7 linked regions of the Homo sapiens genome follow. The protein of the gene in region 5 interacts with the protein of the main gene of each other region in a pairwise test. Each region holds a gene or a part of one and is shown on either strand. Other genes may lie near its edges. The genes, in order: STAM2, CRLF3, TASOR2, FEZ2, PRPS1, KLHL20 and MLC1.

Evidence for each region.
Region 1: the proteins of PRPS1 (region 5) and STAM2 interact in binary tests that used the Homo sapiens proteins (3 or more experiments, as listed by UniProt).
Region 2: the proteins of PRPS1 (region 5) and CRLF3 interact in binary tests that used the Homo sapiens proteins (3 or more experiments, as listed by UniProt).
Region 3: the proteins of PRPS1 (region 5) and TASOR2 interact in binary tests that used the Homo sapiens proteins (3 or more experiments, as listed by UniProt).
Region 4: the proteins of PRPS1 (region 5) and FEZ2 interact in binary tests that used the Homo sapiens proteins (3 or more experiments, as listed by UniProt).
Region 6: the proteins of PRPS1 (region 5) and KLHL20 interact in binary tests that used the Homo sapiens proteins (3 or more experiments, as listed by UniProt).
Region 7: the proteins of PRPS1 (region 5) and MLC1 interact in binary tests that used the Homo sapiens proteins (3 or more experiments, as listed by UniProt).

The regions. Positions count from the first base shown.
Region 1 is NC_000002.12:152,144,764-152,148,263, reverse strand, and holds part of STAM2 (signal transducing adapter molecule 2), read left to right. Parts: coding exon 1-39; intron 40-141; coding exon 142-240; intron 241-955; coding exon 956-1,102; intron 1,103-3,306; coding exon 3,307-3,376; intron 3,377-3,500.
Region 2 is NC_000017.11:30,818,193-30,821,692, reverse strand, and holds part of CRLF3 (cytokine receptor-like factor 3), read left to right. Parts: intron 1-3,500. UniProt on the Homo sapiens protein: May play a role in the negative regulation of cell cycle progression.
Region 3 is NC_000010.11:5,743,838-5,747,337, reverse strand, and holds part of TASOR2 (protein TASOR 2), read right to left. Parts: intron 1,160-3,500; coding exon 1-1,159.
Region 4 is NC_000002.12:36,588,169-36,591,668, forward strand, and holds part of FEZ2 (fasciculation and elongation protein zeta-2), read right to left. Parts: intron 2,844-3,500; coding exon 2,735-2,843; intron 1-2,734. UniProt on the Homo sapiens protein: Involved in axonal outgrowth and fasciculation.
Region 5 is NC_000023.11:107,642,010-107,645,509, reverse strand, and holds part of PRPS1 (ribose-phosphate pyrophosphokinase 1), read right to left. Parts: intron 3,145-3,500; coding exon 3,020-3,144; intron 334-3,019; coding exon 160-333; intron 1-159. UniProt on the Homo sapiens protein: Catalyzes the synthesis of phosphoribosylpyrophosphate (PRPP) that is essential for nucleotide synthesis.
Region 6 is NC_000001.11:173,721,481-173,724,980, reverse strand, and holds part of KLHL20 (kelch-like protein 20), read right to left. Parts: intron 1-3,500. UniProt on the Homo sapiens protein: Substrate-specific adapter of a BCR (BTB-CUL3-RBX1) E3 ubiquitin-protein ligase complex involved in interferon response and anterograde Golgi to endosome transport.
Region 7 is NC_000022.11:50,071,927-50,075,426, forward strand, and holds part of MLC1 (membrane protein MLC1), read right to left. Parts: intron 2,407-3,500; coding exon 2,290-2,406; intron 1-2,289. UniProt on the Homo sapiens protein: Transmembrane protein mainly expressed in brain astrocytes that may play a role in transport across the blood-brain and brain-cerebrospinal fluid barriers. Regulates the response of astrocytes to hypo-osmosis by promoting calcium influx.

The sequences.
Region 1 (3,500 bases), on a different chromosome or scaffold from region 5:
AATCATAAGGTTCCACATGTTGCTCTGCAAGCACTAACTGTGAGTACAAGGCATGTTATTATTTGACGCAAATTTTAAATGTGTTTTTAATTACAGTAAGTTAATATTTCAATATTCATATATTTTTATTTCAATTAATAGCTTCTTGGGGCTTGTGTGGCAAACTGTGGAAAGATATTTCATTTAGAAGTATGTTCCCGTGATTTTGCAACAGAAGTACGTGCTGTGATTAAAAATAAGGTAAATTTTAAAAACAGAAGAACTTTAAGTCATTAAAAAAATGTAGATTGTGTGTCATTATAACTATATGTGGCATTACTAAAGTATTATAAATGAAGTCATTTTTAGATCATTGAAATGAAATAAACTGTTCTGAAATTTGATTTTTTAATGTGTAGCACCAAAAACTATTCTCCCCAAAGTATATATACTGTAAATAATAGCAAATCCTTTTTGAGGGCTAGTAAGTAGTCATTACTTTAAGCATTTTACATATACTGTCTTGTTGAATGCTCTTAACTACCCTTGGAGCATTAGATTCTTGGAAGTTAGATTCCCTTATCATTCTTATTTTATAAATGCAAAAACTGAGACTTAGAAGTAACTTGTCCAAGGTCATGCAGCTGGTAACTGGAATAGCCATGATTTACATCCAGGTTTCTCTGGCTCCATTCTCCGAAACATGGAGGAAATAATCTCTGAATATAAAAGATCTGTTGTCATTATAGTAAGACTTAGGAATTGGTGTTAAAAACAGTCATTTTGTATGAAACAACTATATCACAACATGTAAATAGGCATCTATCAATTACTCAACTAGGCTAGAAATTTCAGGACTTTTGTTGATGTTCATATAATTAAAGAGAATTTTGATGGTAATTCTCCTTGTTAAATAATTTAAGTACTTATTTTAACCGTAGATTTTTGTTTATTTTCCTTTCCTTTTCCTTAAAAGGCACATCCTAAAGTATGTGAAAAACTGAAATCTTTAATGGTGGAGTGGTCAGAAGAATTTCAGAAGGACCCTCAGTTTAGTCTGATATCTGCAACTATTAAATCTATGAAAGAAGAAGGAATTACTTTTCCTCCAGCAGGTTCTCAGGTGAGAGATTTATTCAGACCCATGGTTGACCCTATAATATTTTGAAGGTATGTATGTTATGTAAAGACTAGGCAAGGTATGTCTAGATTATCATTTTCCACCTTTACTTCCCAAATGACTCTCTAGCATAGTGCCTTCCTTACGTTTAGTAGACATTCTAGTTTTTATGTGTATTTCTTCCACATATCAGAACCTTGTGAAGTTAATCAGACATAGTGTATTTAATGTTCCTCTAAGTCTACAGTCATGCAAAAGGCATAGGTATATGACATACCCCTTATATTCAAGAAATTTGTAGCAAATTTGAATGATAGCTTTATACATGTGAAAAATAACTAATTTAGATTGTAAGTGACAAATACAGGATGAGGGGAATAGACTGCATACTGTCTATCTTAATACCAAAGAGAGAAAGAGGTGACTACAGATTGGAATGGTGAAGAAGGTAAAGAGGTAGAATTTTGAGACTTGAATGTATTAATATTTTGTTAGAGAGAAGTGAAGAAGTCATATCAGGAGGTAAGTGAAATGAACAAATTCATGGAATTGAGAGGCTCAAGACTTGTTTGTTCAAGAGTGAATATGCCTAGAGTGAATGCTTCACATACAAGATGGATGGAAATGTAAGACTAGAAATTTATTTGCTGGGAGAAGGGATAGCTTTAGTAGAACTGGGGTGTGGAGGCAGGGATGTTGACTCATGGAGTGGGCTGGTTTTTTTAGGTCTAGGGGAGAAAAATACTATTCCTTGGGTTTTGCTCTCAGTACCTTATTCCTTCCCATTAATATTAAGATATGGGCTAGGGAAAGAGACGATGAGAAGTACTATATTTTCTTTTATTTTAAATCATAGATTAAAGAGAAAAAAAGATTTTTTTTTTTTTTTTTTTGAGATGGAGTTTTGCTCTTGTTGCCCAGGCTGGAGTGCAGTGGCACAACCTCAGCTCACTGCAATCTCTGTCTCCCGGGTTTAAGCAATTCTCCTGCCTCCGCCTTTAGAGTAGCTGGGATTGCAGGTGCCTACCACCATGCCCGGCTAATTTTTTGTATTTTTAGTAGAGACGGGGTTTCACCATGTTGACCAGGCTGGTCTCAAACTTCTGACCTCAGGTGATCCACCTGCCTCGACCTCTCAAAGTGCTGGGATTACAGGCATGAGCCACCACGCTGGCCGAAAAAAGATTCTTTATAGCTGACCAGACCTAAGGGTACAAGGTAACGTTTTGAGATAAGAGTCTTATAAGTAATAAAAAGGAAACATTTTCCTGTTCTGTCCTTTCTGCATATTTTTCTGAAAAATCTATGTAAAGAACCGGTTGATGGATCAGTCCTGGATACCTGTCTTACATGCTGTTTATTAAATTCAAGCATGACCTTCCTTACTTCTCTGCTATGTCTGGCAGACCACTGCCACCCAGCCACAATAACTAGTAAAAGGACTTCACACATATTCCTAGAACTGCACCTCTTGTCTCTGTCCCCATTCCTCTCTCTTCAGTGATGATCATGACTTCTTGCTGGCACTCCTCGTGTAGCTGTACTCCTATAGCAGAGCTCCTCTCACTAAGAGACCTTGGACAATTGAGATCGGGAATACAATCAGAAAAGAGTCTTTTTTAAATTCTATTAATATTTAAGTACTTTCTGTATGCCAAGTTCTGTGTTACATTTATGCAAAATCTAAGCCAGTTTGATCCCTGTGTGAGTTTATAATGTTTTCTTGAAAAATCTGATGTTTTATTTTAGTATTTGAAAACAATTATTTAAAATTATTATAAAGAACTTCACTTTTAGACCAGTGATGGTGGCTCATGCCTGTAATCTTAGCACTTTGGTAGGCTGAGACAGGAGAATCACTTGAGGCTAAGAGTTGCAGATCAGCCCAGGAAACATAGTGAGACCCTGTCTCTACAAAAAATAAAAATTAGCCGGTTGTGGATGCATACACCTCTAGTTCCGGCTTCCCAGGAGGCTGAGGCAAGAGGATCACTTGAGCCCAGGAGTTGGAGGTTACAGTGAGCTATGACTGTGCCATGCACTGCAACCTGGCTGACAGAATGAGACCCTGTCTCAAAAAAGAACTTCACTTTTAAATGAAACTCAGTTATATCAGTATTTTTTAAAATTTACCATCTGCAAGTAATTATGGAGCTTGTGTTTTGTTTGAAAAGATAGTTGTGTTCATTTTACTCATACATTTACAGACTGTCTCAGCTGCTGCCAAGAATGGTACGTCATCGAACAAAAACAAAGAGGATGAAGACATAGCTAAAGGTAAATGATCAAGCACATGTAATTTAGTGTTGCTTAAAATATCTTTGCCAGGGCTGGGCGCGGTGGCTCACGCCTGTAATCCCAGCACTTTGGGAGGCCGAAGTGGGCAGATCATGAGGTCAAG
Region 2 (3,500 bases), on a different chromosome or scaffold from region 5:
CAGTATGTAGCCCCTTGTGACTGACTTCTTTGACTTAGAATAATGTTTCAAGGTTCATTGATGTGGTAGCATGTAACAGTACTTCAAACCTTTTTATGGCTGAATAATTGTTATGTGGATATACCACATTTTATTTATCCATTCATCAATTAATGGACATTTGGATTATTTCCACTTTTGACTATTATGAATAATGCTTCTGTAAAGAATTTGTAGACAACTTTTTGTGTGGACATGTTTTCAGTTGTTTTAGAATATAGCTAGGAATTGGTGGATCACATGGTAACTTTTTGTTTAACCTTTTCAGAAACTCTTGGCATACTTTTTTTCCTTTTTTCTTTTTTTTTTTTTTTGAGAAAGGACCTCACTCTGTCACCCAGGCTGGAGTGCAGTGGCACAATCTCAGCTCACTGCAAGCTCTGCCTCTCAGGCTCAAGTGATCCTCCCATCTCAGTGTGCCGAGTAGCTGGGACTACAGGCACGTGCCATCACCCCTGGCTAATTTTTTGTATTTTTGGTAGAGATGGGGTTTTGCCATGTTGTCCAGCCTCCTGGGCTCAGATGAACACCCACTTTGGCCTCCCAAAGTGTTAGGATTACAGGCTTGAGCCACCGCACCCAGCCTCTTTTTTTTTTTTGAGCCAGAGTCTTGCTCTGTCACCCAAGCTGGAGTGCAGTGGCATGATCAGAACTCACTGCAGCCTCGACTTCCTAGGCTCAAGCCATCCTCCTGTCTCAGATCCCCAAGTAGCTGGGGCTATAGGTACACACCACCACACCTGCCTAATTTTGTTTAATTTTTTTTAGTAGAGATGATGTCTTCCTGTGTTTCCCAGACAGTTTCTTCCTTTTTTTTTTTTTTTTTTTTTGAGAGAGTCTCGCTCTTTTGCCCAGGCTGGAGTGAAGTGGCACAATCTTGGCTCATTGCAACCTTCAGCTCACTGCAACCTTAGGCTCACTGCAACCTCCGCCTCTTGGGTTCAAGAGATTCTCCTGCCTCAGCCTCCCGAATAGCCAGGATTACAGGCGTCTGCCACCATGCCCATCTACTTTTTGTATTTTTACTAGAGACAGGGTTTCACCATGTTGGCCAGGCTGGCCTCGAAGTCCTCACCTCAGGTGATCCTGCCCACCTCAGCCTCCCAAAATGCTGGGATTACCACCGTGCCTGGGTGAGCCACCGTGCCCAGCTGCCAGGCCGATTTCTAACTCCTGAGCTCAAGCAATCCTCTTGCCTCGGCCTCCCAAAGTACTGGTATTACAGGTGTGAGCCACTGCATCTGGCCTACCTTTTGTCTTTGCTTTAGTTTCTTATCCTTTAAACTCTAGCATGAAATTTGTCTCGTATTGAGAAATCATGTTGTATGAACATTTAGAAGGAAGAAGAATAAAAATGTTTTTAAGTTATTCTGTCAAAACTGCCAACATGTAGCAGTTTCTCCTCTTGTGGTTAAGTTTGGGCTCTACCCTCTGTTTTCAGAGAAAAGGAAGTTCTGTGTAGGAATGCAAGGATTGTCTGTTAACTCTTAATGTTTGAATAAGTTAAAGGCTAGAAAGCTGTTCATTGTCTTCAGGAAATCAGATAATGTTTACAGCCAACTTGGCCTAGCTGATGTTGAAATCATTAAGAATAGTTCTCTATAGCTCACTGGAATCCTTGGTACTAAGATGTAAATACCAAAGAAATTAACTCCCACTGTCCTTAAATATTCATTTGTTCATTCACTCAATAAATATTTATTGGGTGCCTACTGTAGGGCTGAGAAACTTCTAGGTCCTAGATTCTGTGTTCAAGGAAATAGATCACTGCCCTCATGGATTTATGCTTTCCTCTTTCCTTTGGTGGCTGATACTTAGGTTACTACCCCTAAAAACAAAACAAGTAAGAAAAATATAAGTTCTATTTGTGTATTCATTTTTATATTTCACTTCTATTATATCTTTCATCACTTGTCCTATTTCTACAGCATTGGCCTTTCTGTTTGTTATAAGTAGAGATCCAGCCTGGCCAATATGGTGAAACCCCGTCTCTACTAAAAAAATACAAATTAGCCAGGTGTGGTAGCGTGCACCTGTAGTCCCAGCTACTCAGGAGGCTGAGCCAGGAGAATTGCTTGAGCCGGGCAGGCGGAGGTTGCAGTGAGCCAAGATCACACCACTGCACTCCAGCCTGGGCGACAGAGCGAGACTCCATCTCAAAAACAAAAACGTAAGTAGAGATAACTGATCAAAATGTCACGTAGTGATGTCAGCTGGCCACTCAGGCCTCACAGAGTGGCACCACCTTGATGACAATGCCAAAGTCAGGGCCTGGTCTTTAATCTTTGTAAGTCCAAAAACTTCATCTTGGTACATTATCAAAGGGGAATTAGTTGAGGTACTGGAGGTGTCTACAGTGAGAAATGCCAGTATTTTAGTCTGTGTGTTGTAGTTCACTCTATAAAATGACTATGTTGGCTTTCATGTACCTTTTGGTATTCTGATTCAGTATTTCTCAGGACACTGACAAAAGCAAGTCTCTGCTCCTTCAAGAGCAAATGGTAAGATCCTGGTACCTAATTAAGATACTAGTTGGTGGCTGGGCTCAGTGGCTCACGCCTGTAATCCCAGCACTTTGGGAGGCCGAGGCGGGTGGATCACATGAGATCAGGAGTTTGAGACCAGCCTTCAACATGGCAAAACTCTGTCTCTACTAAAAATGTAAAAAAAATTAGCCAGGTGTGGTGGAATGCACCTGTAATTCCAGCTACTCTGGAGGCTGAGGCAGGAGAATTGCTTATACCTGGGAGATGGAGGTTGCAGTGAGCCAAGATGGCACCACTGCACTCCAGCCTCAGCAACAGAAGAAGACTGTCTCAAAAAAAAAAAAACACTCAAAAGTTATTTCAAAAAACCAAGACAGGAAGTCTCAGTAGCTTAGCAAAGAAAAGAAAGCTGTTGGCCAGGCGTGGTGGCTCACACCTGTAATCCCAGCATTTTGGGAGGCTGAGGCGGGCGGATCACCTGAGGTCAGGAGTTTGAGACAAGCCTGACCCATACGATGAAAACCTATCTTTACTAAAAATACAAAAATTAGCCGGGTGTGGTGGTGGGCGCCTGTAATCTTAGCTACTCGGGAGGCTGAGGCAAGAGAATTGCTTGAACCCAGGAGACGGAGGTTGCGGTGAGCCGAGATCATGCCACTGCACTCCAGCCTGGGCAACAGGAGTGAAACTGTCTCAAAAAAAAAAAAAAAAGGAAAAGAAAAGAAAGCCATTATTGCTCCTTTTATCTCCCACTTCCCCTTCTGTTACCCATTTTGAAAACACTACAAAAATCTGTGTATAATTTGTTACAGTAGTAGTATTTAAAGTGTCCCTATTATAGTATTCTAAGAAAAGGTTAAATCCAGATACAGGGAAAACCAAGAACAGATGAAATAATTTTTTTTTTTTAATGAAGTTTCGCTCTTGTCGCCCAGGCTGGAGTGCAATGGCTCAATCTTGGCTCACTGCAACCTC
Region 3 (3,500 bases), on a different chromosome or scaffold from region 5:
ATTGCTCTATTTCACCAGCTGGCATTTCTTCTCTGGGACTTGTAGGTGGTGATATTGTTAGAGCTAAGTCAATGTCAGAATCTTCCTCTGATAACTCTAGGCTGACCTCTCTACTCACAGACAGGCTTGTTTGTTTGATAAATACTGAATCAAACGCTTCCAAATTCATATTTTCAGTGTTTGGACCATTCTTGTGATTCTTCCTTAGTTCTAAAGAGTCACCTGATGTGTGGCATCCTGACGAAATGCAGTTAAGTGAACACTGCCTTCCCAAGGTGGTAGAGGCTGATGATGAGTCCACTTCAACCTGTGTCAGTTCTAGAAGCCCTTCTGAAGATAGGCCGAGGAGACTCTGAGTCTGTGAAAGGAAATCCTGAGTGCATCTCACTTCTTCACTGGGTGATAGATGACTAGAACTTTTAGCTAATGATAGTGCCTCCATGACCATTGTTTTATCAGATGGTAGAGAGACTGGAAGGGGCGTCTCCTTCTGTAATGAACACACTGCTTTATCAAGTGTCTCTCCACCTACTGACGAGGCACAAAGGTACTTAGTGCCCTTCTGTCCTGCAACTACTAGAGAGGGAATGTCCCTCAGGCCTTGTGTTCGTGCATTTTCCGAGGTGGATACAGGATGTCTAAGGCTTGCAGCAGGTGATACTTGCTTAATCAACTCCTTCTTAAAGGTTGTACGTTCATCAGCAGTATTTACACCTTCTGTCTGTATTGGTACATGTGCATTTTTTTCAAAGGTGAGAGTAATTGGTTCCGGGTTAATCACTGCACACCCCATATTATCATCCTTTCTTTCCAAGGAAGGGTGACATTCATTGTTTATGGGGCTGCCATGTTGGATAAGGTCCTGTAAAGTACCTGTTTTTGTTTGCACTGCTGCATCAAGAATATCCACTTTGTTTTCAAGGGTGCCGTACACAGAGCTCTGACATATCACTGGCTGACTGCCAGGCCCATCGTAAGTCCTGGTGAATGTGGCTTGAGTAACAGTGCCACTGTAAGAAGCCACTCTTGTGCTATCCAGTGGCTGAACAATTTCTTCTTCACTAGGAACAGAAGGTCCATTAGTTTGTGTACTTCCAATACCCGAAAGCACAAGATTAGAAGTCTCCAATGATTCTTGTTTAGCTTCTTCCCCAGTTACCTGAAACGGCCAAAGTAAAAAAAAAAAAAAATCAGTCATATAAAATGTTTTTTATACGATTATATGTACATGTGAAGAACAGAAAAGATAAAAATTAATTTTAGTTTGTGAATGTTCTTCTGAATTTTCTAGCTAAAAGAATATCACAGGGTACAAATCAAGCAAGTCCCTCTTTTAAAGGCAGACTTAAAATACCCCCCAGTGGGATTTGTTTTCTTTAAAACCACACACAGAAGAGAGCTCCAAGCTTTTTGGAAGAAAAATAACTAGACCACTGACAATTTAAAAGACTTTAAATGCAGCCTGTTTGCTACTTAGCACCGCTTAATCCAGAAGTGTAGCACTAGAGAAAAAGCATTCAATTTTGTTTTTAATAAATGAGATTAATTTTTTTTTTTTCAAGACAGCGTCTTGCTTTATCGAACAGGCTGCAGTGCAGTGGAGTGATCTTGGCTCACTGCAACCTCTGCCTCCCGGGTTTAAGTGACTCTCTGCCTCAGCCTCCCGAGTAGCTGGGATTACAGGTACATGCCACCATGCCCGGCTAATTTTTGTATTTTTAGTAGAGATGAGGTTTAGCCACGTTGGCCAGGCTGGTCTCAAACTCCTGACCTCAAGTGATCCACCCACCTCGGCCTCCCAAAGTGCTGGGATTACAGGTGTGAGCCACTGTGCCCAGCCTAAAAGATAATTTTTAAAAAGCAAATAACATTTTTAACATCCGTTTTCAATTAGACCATAAGTACACCATCATCTGAAACTTTCCCATGAGGCAACAGAGTAAATTAATTACTACCCCCTGTACTCAGAATACATTGATTCTAGTCAACAAAGGCCCCTCATCCCTTAGCTATCTTCTTTGCATGAAACTGGAGATTCTTTCTCATTTGAATACCTATTGTACATGGCAATTGAAAACTTTATCAATGCAGTTTGCAATCATAAACTGAACTAAAGGCACTGATTTAAACAGTAGCAAGCAGGATTTAGGTTAAACATTAGCAGAGCTATCATCTCAGGACAGTTCTCATAACCTCATAAACAGGGTGGTATTTGTTTTTTGTTTTATTTAAAGCCTCAAGCATGGCCTTGTCGAGCATATAATAAAATGAACTGATTATACAACTGATCACACCCCTCTGCAATGCTGGGAACACCATGCTCACAAACTGCGTGCCATGTCTTGAAGCATACATGTTGGAAATCAGGAACTGTGTTCCAAATCTCTTGTTAAAAACATTTCTGTCTTAGGTAGGGCACGGCTTCTCACGCCTGTAATCTCAGAACTTTGGGAGGCTGTGGTGGGCGGATCACTATAGGCCAGAAGTTCGAGACCAGCCTGGCCAACATGGCGAAACCTAGTCTCTACTAAAAATACAAAAATTACCCAGGAGTGGTGGCATGCACCTGTAATCCCAGCTACTCGGGAGGCTGAGGCAGAGTCACTTGAACCCGGGAGGCGGAGGCTGCAGTCTCAAAAAAACCAAACCAAACAAACTCATTTCTGGCTGGAGCAGTGGCTCACGAGACTCTGTCTCAAACAAAACAAAACAAACAAACCAACCAACCATTTCTGGCTGGGGGCAGTGGCTCACGCCTGTAATCCCCAGCACTTTGGGAGGCTGAGGCAGGTGGATTGCCTAAGGTTAGGAGTTATAGACCAGCTTGGCCAACATGGTGAAACCCTGTCTCTACTAAAAATACAAAAATCAGCCAGGTGTGGTGGCAGGCGCCTATAATCCCAGCTACTAGGGAGGCTGAGGCAGGAGAATCAGTTGAACCAGGGAGGTGAAGCTTGCAGTGAGCCGAGATCGTGCCATTGTACTCCAGCCTGGGAGACAAGAGTGAGACTTCTCAAAACAAAACAAAACAAAACAAAACAAAAAAACAGAGTCAACAGTGTGGGGCTGAGACAACAGAGTTTTAAGAGAACAAAGTATTAGAAAAGTCTTGAGAGTCAGTGTCCTTCTGAGAACTTTAATGGCCCTCCCAATCATGTGGCTGGTAACGTTTAGCCTCAGTCCTAAATCTCACCATGACTGTAGTCTTAGTGAAATGCAAATAGTGACAATCTTGATATATTTCTATTTCGATATATTTTTACTACAGGTAAAGTGTAATGCTTCTAAAATAAAGTCTGACAATTCAGAAAGAGTGCTCAACTCAACACATGACTAGCAGCAACATGCTTTTGGTTTCTAGTGCCTATCATGCTAGAATCCTCTTCTTCACATTCCAGTGTGCCAACTGGTGGAGGGAGTGCGATAGCACACGTGTGCCTTTCAAGTACAGGCACAGCATTCAACAAGATGACAAAAAAACAAAAGCCTACGTAAGTACA
Region 4 (3,500 bases), on a different chromosome or scaffold from region 5:
CAGGCATGCGCCACCACGCCTGGCTAATTTTGTATTTTTAGTAGAGACGGGGTTTCACCGTGTTGGTAAGGCTGGTCTCAAACTCCTGACCTTAGGTGATCCATCCACCTCAGCCTCCCAAAGTGCTGGGATTACAGGCATGAGCCACCGCGCCCAGCCAGGTAAGGCTTTTTAATGTCAGTACTAGCATTAAACTCTACGTCATTACTAATCACTGCCTTGGCCATATCATTACCGTGGCATTGAAAATAACATTCAAAAGGCAGCAAAAGGGAGCAACCTCCCAAGATGCAATCTAAGAACAATACAAGACATACAGCAGTCCCTCGGTATCCAAGGGAAATTTGTTCCAGGACACCCCAATAGCAAAATCTGCAGATGCTCAAGTCCCTTATATAAAGTGGGGTAGTATTTGCATATAACCTGTGCACATCCCCCTATAAGCTTTAAATTATATGTAAATTACTTATAATACCTAATACAAGGTAAATGGTTTATAGTTATATTGTATATAACTATACAATATTTATATTATAAAGTTATATTGTATCGGTTTTCGGTTTTTTATTTTCATTATTTTCAATTGTTGTGTTGTTATTTTATTGTGGGGTTTTTTTTTCAAGTTTTTTAATCCACAGTTGGCTAAAGCAGCAGATGTGAAACCAGAGAATATGGTGGGCCCGCTGTACATTTAGTCAATGAAATTGGATTAAACTGTCTCACTCACGCTGCTAATGGGCCTGACTTTGAAACTATGAATGGAAACTCTTCTATGCTATTTTTTAATATGTCAAAAAAGTAGTACCCATGGACTGGTTTTGGTGCATTCTGCATTATTTTAAATAACATAGAAAATATTTTTTTAAAACCTTTCTATCACGATCTCTGGCCCTACAGTTTCACTGACAAGGCTATTCACTTATTCACTCAATAAAAAGGTATCTTCAAACTTACTATGTGCCAGGAACAGTATAGTTACTATAAAGACAAATACAAATACCTGCCGGGAAGTCACAATCTAGTGACAGACCCAGAAACATATGATTAACAAGAGAAGGCAGTGGTAATTTTAGAGACAGGGACAAAGTGATCTGGGGACTAGCACCCATGAGACAGCAAGGCTAAACCCCGTGGCACAGATAACAAGTCCTTTCAAAGTTCACAACCCCACAAGTGCCATCAGTTCCCCTAGAGGGGAGTGTGTTTTCCTTCCGTGCAGGAATTTAGGCCATGGCTAAATGACCATCTGTCAGAGATGCTGGAGGTGAGGATTCCCCCCAAGTGAGAGGCTGGATTAAGTGTCCTTTAAAGCCCCTTCCAACTCTAAAATTGTATAATTCCATGAGATCAGCAAAGGCTAAAACAGTAATAGGAAGCTTCAGAGAGGAAGGGAAACTTGAACTAAGCCCAAAATGATAGCCAGGACCTAAGTAAACAAGACAGAGCAAAAGATCCCTCATTTTATTCCTTTTCATTAAATATATGCCAGGTCAGTCTGCAAAGCTTAATGGGATTAATGACTGGCACAGTCAGGAAGATTTCCATAGCTACTGAATACTGGGAAATACAGCCAGAATTCTACATTTTACTAGAAAATAATAACAGTAGGCTTTTCTGATCACATATGTAAGAAAATCCTTTTAACAAAACATTAACAATACTATGTAAAATAGTGACAGGCCTACTGCACTATATTCTCAATAATCACATAATTACACTTAATGAAATATAGAGCACGCAAGAAGATCTGGCATGAGTTTACATTATTATTTGATAAGGAACTTAAACAGCCAGGCCCTGAAACTTAGATAATTTGGATATGTTTCTCATCAGATTTAAAAAAGCTTAACACTGTGATTTTCCATTTCAAGTAATTCTCAACCCTTTTCTGCCTCCCTACCTGTCCCACCACTCGTGCTCACACTTCTTAGTCAAGACATCTTCACTTTACAATACCAGGATGTACACAGGAGACCCCAAGAAAGGTAAGTTAGCCAAGACCGTATTTTAAAAGCCAAGAACTAAAATATCTTTTAAAGGTTCTCCAGTATTCACAGGAATACACAGTCTCCTGACAACATATCATGTCTAGCAGGTCACTACACTCATTAAAAAGTTAACTCCGTGTTGAGATTCCAATACTCTCAGTATATTAAACCAAAGGCTAGCATTTTTACTGAGGGTTTCAGTGCACCAAATTTTACTGAGTGTTTCAGTGCATCATCACTGCCAGGTGCAGTGGCTCACACCTGTAATCCCAGCACTCTGGGAGGTGAATTACCTGAGGTCAGGAGTTCGAGACCAGCCTGGCCAACACAGCGAAACCCTGTCTCTACTGAAAATACAAAAATTAGCCGGGACTGGTGGCTCATGCCTGTAATCCCAGCTACTCGGGAGTTTGAGGTGGGAGAATCGCTTGAACCCAGGAGGCAGAGGTTGTAGTAAGCCACTGTACTCCAGCCTGGGCAACAGAGTGAGACTCCGTCAAAAAAAAAAAAATTGTGATGGAAATTTAGCTACACATAAAAAATGAGTGTGCTGGAGAAGAACTGGAGGAATGTGCCAGCAAGGTGATGGCCCTACAGCCAAGACATCAAGACAGAGCCACCCAAACTGCTATAATTTCAGAAATGAGAGGCAGGTCAGTGAATCTGTGTTAAGCAGAAATGCTACTGTTTTAGTTCTATTATCAGCATCAGTTATTCAAACACTATTGGTTCAATTCCTAACTTACCCCTTTTTCTGAGAGGTTCAGAGTAAGCAAGTGCAAGGTCCTAGTATGCGATGACTTCCAGTCTACAGGCATCACATTCCCATAATTATCTGTCAGGGCATTCCAAATCCTTAAAAAGAAGAAAGCTACAATCAATGAAAATTAACATTCTGTATGTCTTTCTTAAACAAATATTCAGTGAAAGATGAACAGCAAATGTCAAAGGAAACAGAGAAAAACAGACAGCACATTGTTTCTCAGAAAAACATCAACAAAGTAGAGTCTCCTAAACAAAAACGAGGTGAAAAATCACATAACTGGGCTGACAAGAAGTCCTAAGGGAAGGTGAAGCCGTACAGAAAACTGCCAATAGGCAGTAGGCAACACTTCCATTATATTAGGTGCTAGGCACTGTTCTAAGCAATTTACATGTATTAACTCATGTAATCTTCAAAAACAACATTAGAAGGGGGAACCATTATTAACCTCATTTTACAGATGAAGAAACTGAAACACAGGGCGGGGAAGAAATGTTTCCAGGGTCACATGAATAATAAATACAACTGTGCATTACACTTATTTTTCTTCTGTAACTTCAAACAAACAGACCATTTCAAAAAGTGAAAAATCTCTCTCAAACAAAAGGTTTGTTATCCTTTCTGGAGAAAGAATTCGCTCTCAATGTGAGAACAGGATTTAATATCTAATTTGTAATAAAGAAGCTAAGCACTAAGGCAGATACAACAAAAAGGAGAAAGAGAGGGAGTTCACAATAAAACACACCCAG
Region 5 (3,500 bases):
ATTTCTATGTATTATAATTTAAGCCTTGGGTGATAAAAATCTCACAAAGTTACTTATCCCCTCAATTTGGTTCCAAAAGGAATCAGCAGGCTGAAGACATTCAGACAGCAATTGCTAGCTTTTTCCTTCTAACTACCAGCCCCATCAATCCACACTTACTTGTCAGCTGCATGGCAGATTGTGCCACAAGTGTCAGCCATGTCATCCACAAGGATGGCCACCCGATCCTTCACATCTCCCACAAGCACCATGCGGTCCACTTCATTGGCCTTCTTCCGTTCTTTGTGAATCAAGGCAAAGTCCACATTCAGCCTGTCTGCAATGGAGGTCACTCTGCAAAACAGAGCGTGTTCATATGTATGTGTGGCTTCTAAGACAAAAGAAATGGACTAAAGAGGCCGGGGGCGGTGGCTCACGCCTGTAATCCCAGCACTTTGGGAGGCTGAGGTGGGCGGATCACAAGGTCAGGAGATAGAGACCATCCTGGCTAACACAGTGAAACCCCATCTTTACTAAAAATACAAAAAATTAGCTGGGCATGGTGGCGGGCGCCTGTAGTCCCAGCTACTCGGGAGGCTGAGGCAGGAAAATGGCGTGAACCCAGGAGCTGGAGCTTGCAGTGAGCTGAGATCGCGCCACTGCACTCCAGCCTGGGTGACAGAGCGAGACTCTGTCTCAAAACAAAAAAAAAAGAAAAAAAGAAATGGACTAAAGAATGGGCTTGTTTTGGGGAGGAGAATACTCCTTGAAACCAATAGTTCCCAGGGCTGGAAGAATGAAAGCAACTATCATTGACTTCTCAAAGGCAAATATCACAAACTGGGTTTTATAAACCAGTGCCTCCATAGCTCAACAGAAGCTTATGAACGTACTGATCAAACTTAGATGAGTATTCATTCTGGGTAGAGGACAGACACCCTCACCAGTACTGGGAAGCAGTATAACGCTAAGACACGCAAGTTTATTTAATGGATTGGCAGCAGAAGGAATGAGGAAAGAATTAACTAATGCCAGGAGTACACAGACTGTCCCAATTCCCATCATGGAAGACCCGTGAATGGGGATGTGGTGAGAAGAGAACCTGACTGGCAGGAGAGGAGCAGCATCCAGCCTGTTCCAATGCCTGTGTCCTCATCACTTCCCTCAGTGCTGTTGGCAAAACATCCATCAACTGTCACTGTCAACTGTACCTGGACACCAAGCTTGGGAGTTTTTTTCACAATTGCTAGACAGAAAGTTATATCAATTACCCAGACAAGCTAGGCATCTCACCATTCGGTCCAAAGTATCTTCCAATCAAAGAGAATTCTTATTTTTCTTATTACAAGAGAAAATAAACCAGACTAGAAGGTAGGATAGAAGACAAATTTGTCTTTTGACAAAGTACCACATAATTCAAACAAAAATCTATTCAGTGTAAATGACAGTGAGCTGCCCCAGTGGCACGTCTGTCCATGCTCCGCTGTGCCATCTCCGTCATGTGTGAAGCAGCCCGTGCTTGGGGATTTGTCCTGTTTTTTAATGTAGAACTGAACAAACTATAGCATTTTGTCCTGTTTCTCTTGTGACTATGGTCACATGAGTTTTTGCTGGATAAGTGAGAACCTGTGACCACATAATAAGGTTTGAACCATAATCTAGGTAACATTTGTACCTTGATCTAAACCAACCATACCCTGTACTCTCCATTACTACTACTGCATAAGCACATAACATCAGTGGTAACCAATTCGCTTGGAATGATTACTTACCCAAGGCAAATGCATGATCAATTAGTTCAAGTATCCCAAACCAACCATACTCAAAGGCCAACAAATTCAGTGACCAACAAAGCATAAAAAGGGCTAGAAAAAGTAACTCTCTACACCTTTTGAGGAGAGAACTACTGTACAAATGAATATCACACAGGGATCTCTACCTACTCCCCAAACCCTGCCAACACAGAAGTGATAGACACTCAATTGTAAAATACTCCATCACTATAAGACAATGATAATGAAAAAAAAATCAGGTAGCAATAAGTTGTCTACTAAAGGCAGTTTTCCTATACCCACCTTTGGAAAGAAAATCCTGCCTATTTCAAATGTGACTATTTTCTAAGTCCCACAGAAAGATATTAAAATAATGACCGACAAATTAAATATGACAACTACTAGTTGGGGGGATGTTTCTTAGGCTGTCTCTAGCATTACAGATGGTAACTAGCAATTACATGGGACTCACCAACCCATATATCTGGCTGGATAACATAACTCAAGTTCTCAGCTTATCAGTTCTGTTGAAGTTACTGAAATAAAAGAGGTTGTTGAGAAACAGTCATTGAAGATTTGAATGGCTTTTAGAAAGTTCTGAATTAGCTCTTCCTAATCATCTGTGTTTTGTAGCTCTTCATTCTATTTCCACAACAAGAAGAACATGTGTCACACTTTTGAATGCATTACTAACGAGTAATCCACTAAGGAAATCAAGAGCTCTTAGTCTGCACCATGTGAGCTGCAAAGCACTGTTAACTGGCAATCCCTGGCAATCAGTTTGTTTAAAATGTTAAGATCTTGGCTTTAAATAAAAATGTCACACTTTACTTTCCTTCCTGCTTAATATTTTAATCCCAAGGATCAAAATGATCTAACCAACAGCATTGTAAGAGGAGTGTAAAAGCGAATTTGTCCACCAATATGTGGTTCAATAGCAGCTGCTATTCATTAGAAAACCACATTTTCTACCCTTCCCAAAAGGTTTATAGCTGTATTGCTAGCTCTGTAGCACCAAGTTACTCATAAGTTATAGTCAAATCCATAATATGATGATTTAGGACCCCTTTTCTGTCTTGTCTTCCGAGTAGTAACTGAGGACAGTAAAAGAGGAAAGGGTAAAACTATATTCAACCCATGTGCTAGCTACTTACATCCATTCAAAAATACTTAAAAACTGCCACTTGGATAGAAAAACTTCACTTTGTGACACAACCATCTGAAAGATTTTCCCAGTACATTGGGAACAATACTAATTTCAACCATACCTCTTAGCTCCACCAGCATCAGGTGAGACAATAGTGCAGTTCCTCCACTCAGAGATATTCTCCCTTATCCACTTTAGGACAGCCGGCTCTGCATACAAATTGTCTACTGGGATATCAAAAAAGCCCTGTAGAAAGAAGCTGGATCAGTTTTGCTTCACTTTCCTTCTCTTCCATTTATAAATGGCAAACACAAAGTAGTAACTTGCTCAGAGAATGTCTTACTGCAACATTCAAACTGATGGGAAGGCAGGCCCAGTGTGGTAGATTATAAAAGCCTCCTTGAATCTGGGCTATGTGAGAGAGCCCAGCCAAGATCAGCAAAGCCAGCCCTCAGTCAACCCACAACTGAACATAGGAACATAAGTGAGCCCTTGTAAAGAATGGCTAAGTTCAGACAAAACCATTAAGAACTGCCCAGTCAACATGCAGACTCAGTGAGTTTGTAAATACTGCTTTATGCCACTAAGTGTTGGACTGATTT
Region 6 (3,500 bases), on a different chromosome or scaffold from region 5:
GAATGAGCATAACAAAGTGAACTTATATCATCACTTTTCTAGCTGAAATTAACGGGGATGGTCTAAGAAATTTTCAGAATTACCTTTAAGTACTTATAAAATACCTAAAATACTTTTATTATGTTTAAAAAGTCATTCCAGATAATATATAAGATACAAATTTGTATCTTTTCTTTGCGACAGGGTCTTGCTCTGTCACCCAGGCTGGAATACAGCGGTTTGATCACGGCTTACTACAGCCTCGACCTCCTAGGCTCAACTGATCCTCCCACCTCAGCCCCCTAAGTAGCTGGGACTACAGGTGTGAGTCACCATGCCTGGCTTGAAAATTTGTATCTTATATTCATATTTCATATGTAGAAATTCAGGTGCTAAATTACTAGGTAAAAGTCACAAATTACTGACAAATAATTAGAAATAAGATATTTGGATTTTTGTATGATCACATTATATAAACATGCAGAGAAAAGACAATCTATGCCTCTTAATTAAAATAATTATTCTTTTAACAAATATTTACTAATTGCTTTTAATGTACACAAAGCATTTTGCTATAGACTGTGGAAAATTCTAAGTAATATAAAGAAGCAATCTCTAGAGGAGGAGATACATGAATAACTAGTAAGAGGGCAACCAGGACAAAAGATGTGGTTCAAACATAAGAATTTTCGGAGGAGGCTGAGCCTAGTGGCTCATGCCTGTAATCCCAGTACTTTGGGAGGTTGAGGCGGGGGGATCCCTTAAGCCCAGGAGTTTGCCATGCCTAGGCAACATAGTGAGGCCCCATCTCTAAAAAAAAAAAAAAAAATCCCCAAAACATATATATCATGTATGTGTATGTGTATATATATATAAAAGAATTTTTGGAGGTGATACATATGTTTAGAACCTTGATTGCGGTGATATCATGGGTATATACATATGCCCAAACTCATCAAAATGTATACATAAAATATGTACCTCAATTATACCTCAATAAAGCTTAAAAGTCATTCAGAAAGGCAAAATCTATGAAGTATATGTTTAACATCATTCAGAAAGATTCTGGATCTCACAGGTATAGCCTATCAGGTTACTACAAAGGTTGTTGTTGTAAAGTAGGAATATTACACTGGGTTTTCCCAGAGCTTAAGTGAAATATCTCACATCCATGCTCCAGATCGTTATATTTCTGTTTCTGATTCTAAACTCATTAAGCAGTCCTCTGATGGAAAATTCTTCCAAAAGTACCATGCTACTTAAAAGGGGGATGACTCAAGCATTCTGATCACTGAGTTTTAGGTCAGCCTCATGTGAGTCTCTCTCAGATGCTAATTATCTACAACTACTGAGAGAGTCTAATATCTAGCCTGCAAAGGACAGCATCCCTATCAGTCTGCTACTTCCAAAGCTGTAGCACTGACGGGAACTACAGTATAATAAAACACTAAAGTGTAAAAGGAGTCTCCTGAGAAGGACAGAAAAATCTATAAGGACATTCTAGGGAGAAGAAATTGCATGTGCATTGCAAAGATATAGCACAAAAATAAAAAACATGGTTCTTCTTTTCTCCAACAACAACCAATTTTTCCAAAACACTTATACATCTGGTAAAAACATCACTGTTTACGCTTGGCAATTTTAAAGACTAAAACATAAAGCTGAGCAGTTAAAGAATAATTTTTACCATCCATATAAACAATCAAGAATGCTTTTAACCACAGAGCTAAAATGGTGCCTTGTACACAGTAGATGCTGAAAGAATAAATCACATGATTAACAGTGGTACAATCAAGCTTCTTTTTTAAAAAAGTAACAATTAAAGACAGAAGACCAAAAATTCCTGGAATACTGACACTGCATGCTGAAAGTAAAGTGTTATTGTCACAACCTTAGTTACATACATAAAGATGCTACTGTTGAACTGAGATATAAACAATTTTTTATTTCACCTAAGTACAATGTGGGTAAACTAAGCTAATGTCTCCGTTTTTCTTTTAAACATACCATAGTGCCAGGCGCGGTGGCTCACACCTGTAATCCCAGCACTTTGGGAGGCAGAGGTGGCTGGATCACCTGAGGTCAGAAGTTTGAGACCAGCCTGGCCAACATGGTGAGGCTCCATCTCTACTAAAAATACAAAAATTAGCTGGATGTGGTGGCGCATGCCTGTAATCCCAGCTACTTGGGAGGCTGAGGCAGGAGAATTGCTTGAACCTGGGAGGCAGAGGTTGCGGTGAACCAAGATTGTGCCACTGCACTACTCCAGCCTGGGAAACAAAAGCGAAACTCTATGTCAAAAAAAAAAAAAAAATTACCATAGCAAAAAAAAATAATGCTCTTATTACTGCATCAGTATAGTAGAATCTTTTTTTCTTTTTTTTAGAAATAAGGTATTGCTCTGTCACTGAGGATGAAGTGCAGTGGTATGATCACAGCTCACTGCAGCCTCAAACTCCTGGTTGAAGCGATCCTCTCACCTCAGCCTCCTGAGGAGGCTCTCAGGTGCATGCTACCACGCCTGGCTTAATTTTAATTTTTTGGTAGAGACAAAGACTCTCTCTGTTTCCCAGGCTGGTCTAGAACTCCTGGCCTCAAGTGATCCTCCTGCCTCAGCCTCCCAAAGTGCTGGGATCACAAGTGTAGGCCACTGTGCCCCCAGCCATTGGTGTCCATCCATATAATTTTCACTTCAGGAAATATCATTCATCTTTTGCCTTTTTTCCTCAACCATTTAAGAATGTAAAAGCTAGCTGGGCATGGTGGCTCACAGCTGTAATCCCAGCACTTTGGCAGGTTGAGGCAGGAGGATCGTTTGAGCTCAGGAGTTTGAGACCAGCTTGGGCAACAAAATGAGATTCCATCTCTACGAAAAAATTTAAAAATTATCCAGGTGTGGTGACATGTGTGACAAGTGCTTCTTGAAAAGCTTGCAGAACCACAAGCCAAGATAAACTTCTTTTCTTTATAAATTACCAAGTCTCAGGTACTTCTTTATTGCAATGCAAAATGGACTAATACGCTATCTAAATGAACATTTCACCTTTCCTACTTCAAAAATTTTGTTTTACTTTGAAAATTAACAACTTGACCTTAAAAAAGATTCAGTTGCACTGACCCTCATTTATAGTCCTAAATATACTTGAATAGAGACAGCTGGAGATTTGAGTGTATAAACCCTCAAAACAGAAATAACATCTCAAAGTGTCACTTCTACTTAGTAGAAGGGGTCCCAATAGGCACTATATTCCACACCTGATTCCACACCAGAAGGCCAAGCTATTAACCTCTTTATTTGAAACTTGGTTGTGAATGTTTTAGTCCCAAGACATCTCATCACGGCTTATTGGATAAAATGAGCATAAGCCTTGGGTGCCTTGGTCCAGTGATCGAGACCAAGATGGAGCAGGAAGGGTAAATCCTCATGCAAGCATGCTAGTTTCCCTTTATATCAGGATAGCAAAAGCCTTCCTAGAATACCCCTCAACAACTACTGCTGACATCTCATTGGTAGCACTGTG
Region 7 (3,500 bases), on a different chromosome or scaffold from region 5:
TGGGCTCCGAGCAGGGGAGCCTGGGCAGCAGGGAGAAGACTGGGGAGCTGAGGGGCTGCCAGTGCAAAGGCCCCAAGCCAGCTGCTGAGGTGGGTGTGGCCCTGGCCAGGGAGGCTGAGGTGTCAATACAGGGGTCTCTCCTGGGCTTGGTGCTTCTGAAAGGGCCTTCTAGCTGTAAGCAGCAGTGAGGGCACAGGAAGGGATGGTGGCTTCAGGGTGGCCTATTCAGGGCCCCAGTGAGCCATGGGAGGGCGGGAGTTTCCCCGTTCACCCAGCATGGCCACTCCGGCCCCTGCCCTAGAGGGCCAGGAAGCTCAGCCATAGGGGCTGGGGCAGCTCAATCAAGGGCCCTGCCCTGGAAGGGTCCAGGCCTGCAGCCCAGCCCCCAACTCCAGCCCCGAGCACCTGCCTCCAGCCCATGGTGCAGGGCCTGGGCCCCTCTGCCGCACCCAGGCCAGACTCAGGCAGGTGGAGCTGGGTCCCTCACCACGCATGCCTCAGCGCTCTCCTCTCCTCCTGGGGTCTCCTGCCCTGAAGAGAGGGTTGGGAGTGTGGGTGGATTTAGGGGCGCCCAGGGGGCAGCACCTGATGGGCAGGGGGTGCTCTCCGGGAAGATGGAGAGAGCAGAGCCACCCCCGAGGCAGGAGGGGTCTGCGGGATGGGAGGGGCCTCTGTGATGAGGGCTGACTGCAGGGACAGGGAAGGGGGTAGGGCAAGTGCCTTTCATTCTCAACTTTTTGGAGGTATGTGGTCTCTGTCCTCCCTCAGCTTCGGGATGTAATCCCTGCGTTTCAGACCCCAGGGTCAGTTGTACACACCTGCAGGCGTCATTCTCTCTGTCACAGACCCGCTTGGGTGGGCACCCATGTGAGTTCTCTGTCTCAGTAGCTGGGCCTGGTCCTACCCCTTCCGGGGGTGTGGCTCTATCCCAGCTCGGTCCTGCCTGGGTCTCTTTCCCTCTCTGAGCGCCTCAGCAGCCCACTAGGTCGGGCACTGGTGCCCTGGGGGCATTGCTCTGTGCCTACTCGCCCCCACAGGGAGCTGAAACACAGCTGCTGCCAATGGGATGTGTCCACCTGGCAGGCGTGGGCCCCTTCTCGGCAGTCCACCCGGCCACACCGTTCCCGGGCAGGCGTGGGCCCCTTCTCCGCAGTCCACCCGGCCATACCATTCCCGGGCAGGCGTGGGCCCCTTCTCGGCAGTCCACCTGGCCATACTGCTCCCAGGCAGGCATGGGCCTCGGCAGCTTCAGGAAGAGCCCCACTGCTGCCCAGGAGGAGCCTGTAGCTGATGCTGGGTGCTCACCATTCCTGCTCATGTACATAAGAGAGCAGGGGCAAAATCTAAAAGTCCACACAGCATGAGACAAACCAGGGGCTGGCCGTCAACACCGGTGTGCAGGCCACTACGCGGCAAGGTGCTGAGAACCTCGTGGGGTCTGCGTCCGGAGGCAGGTGGGTGGTGGCTCTGGGTGGGCTACAGGCTGTGAGGGGATCTGGGGTGTGGAGGGGTTGCTCTAGACTCACTGTTCTGAGGGAACACACCTGTAATCCCAGCACTTTTGGGGGCCGAGGCAGGCAGATCACTTGAGGTCAGGAGTTCAAGACCAGCCTGGCCAACATGGCAAAACCCGGTCTCTACTAAAAATACAAAAAAATTAGCTGGGCATGGTGGTCCACGCCTGTAATCCCAGCTACTTGGGAGGCTGAGGTGGGCAAATTACTTGAACCCGGGGAGGGGCAGAGGTTGTAGTGAGGTGATATTGAGCCACTGCACTCCAGCCTGGGTGGCAGAGTGAGACTCCATCTCAAAAAAATAAATAAATAAAATAAATAAAACAATGCCCATGTATTGAGCATGTGGCATGTGTCAGGTGCTGTGTGACACATCTGCTGCAGTAACATTTAATGTAAAGTAATAACAGAAATATGCTGCATTGTATGAAACACATAGTGTAATATAAATGCATTATATATTAGAAAATTATATAGAATAATAAACATCTACAGCCTGACATTCATATGTTAAAAAGATTAGAATAATAAAAATAATTGGTATTTTTTTCAGGAAAAATAATATAAAATAATCACACAAACTAATATAAAAGCAGTTAATACTTTGACTCATTTAATCCTTAACTCCCCAGTTCTTCTGAAGTTGGGGGCCAGCGAGGACCCTCTGTGGTGACTCTCTGTCTGAATGCACCAAGACTGAGCTCGGGGCCCAGCCACGCAGGATCTGAGCAGTGTGGCCCAGAGCGGCGGCGGGCGGGCCAGAGGGGTTACTCACGGCCACTAGGATCCAAAAGAACGTCACTGAGAGGTGTGGGCCTGAAACTGAGTCATCCACGTTCAGGGCAATGATCCCCCCGAGGACGGCAGAGATGCCTGCGATTACCTCGACGACCTGGAGGGGACAGGACAGCATCGGCTCATAAGGAAGTGGAGACACCCCCAGATTCCCAGAATGCACTGTGCAGACATGGACCCCCAGGAGCAGGGTCCAGTGGGCTGGCCCCAGATCTAACCGTGGAGGAGCCCACCTGGATGGACCCCCAGCCTCACCTGGCCCAGACCCCCTCTGCCCTCAGCTGCGGCTTTTCACGTCCCTCCTGGAGTAAAATAGCCAAAGAGGTGTTTCCCCCACTGCTGCTTTTGTCCACAGAAACTGAGGGTATTGACCTGACAGTGGTGAGGGCAGAAAACCAAGACCCTCAGACTCCCTTCCCTGTCTCACAGTGTGGCAGGCGGCGGTGCTCAGACCCTGGACCCCATCGAAGGGACTCGGGAAAACAGGCCTGGGGCAGAAGTAGCTTCCCATAGGACACACCCACCCGTGCCATGTGGGTTTGCCATTGCCACGGCAACACTGGACGTCACCACCCCTTTCCGTGGCAATGATCCAACCACCTGGACGTTAGCACCCCTTTTCTAGAAATTTCTGCATAATCTGCCCCTTAATTAGCATATACTTAAAAGTGGGTATAAATAGGAGGCAGAGCTGTCTCTGAGCTGCTGCTCGAGGCACCTGCCGGTTGGAGAGCCCTGCTATACTGCCACTGCAAACAAAGCTGCTGTCTGTCACCTCCAGCTCGCCCTTGAATTCTTTCCTGGACAAAGCCAAGAACCCTGCTGGCCTAAGCCCTGGTTGTGGACTCATCTGCCCGGCACCATCAGGGCCGCAACCAGCACCGCCAGACTCAGGGAGGGGCCGCAACCAGCACCGCCAGACTCAGGGAGGGGCCGCAACCAGCACCGCCAGACTCAGGGAGGGGCCGCAACCAGCACCGCCAGACTCAGGGAGGGCTGGGGAAGAAACACACGCCCGAAAACCTGCTCCCGTGAAGGATCTCTGTGAGTCGCAAACACAGAGCTGTGGCCAGCAGGAAAGCCAGGCATAAGGAGTGGGCCAGCAAGGGCTTGGGGGCCGGAAGGGACCTGGGCAGCCAGGCCTTGCGTCCAGAAGGCACAAAACTCCAGATGCACAAATAAAGCTGAATT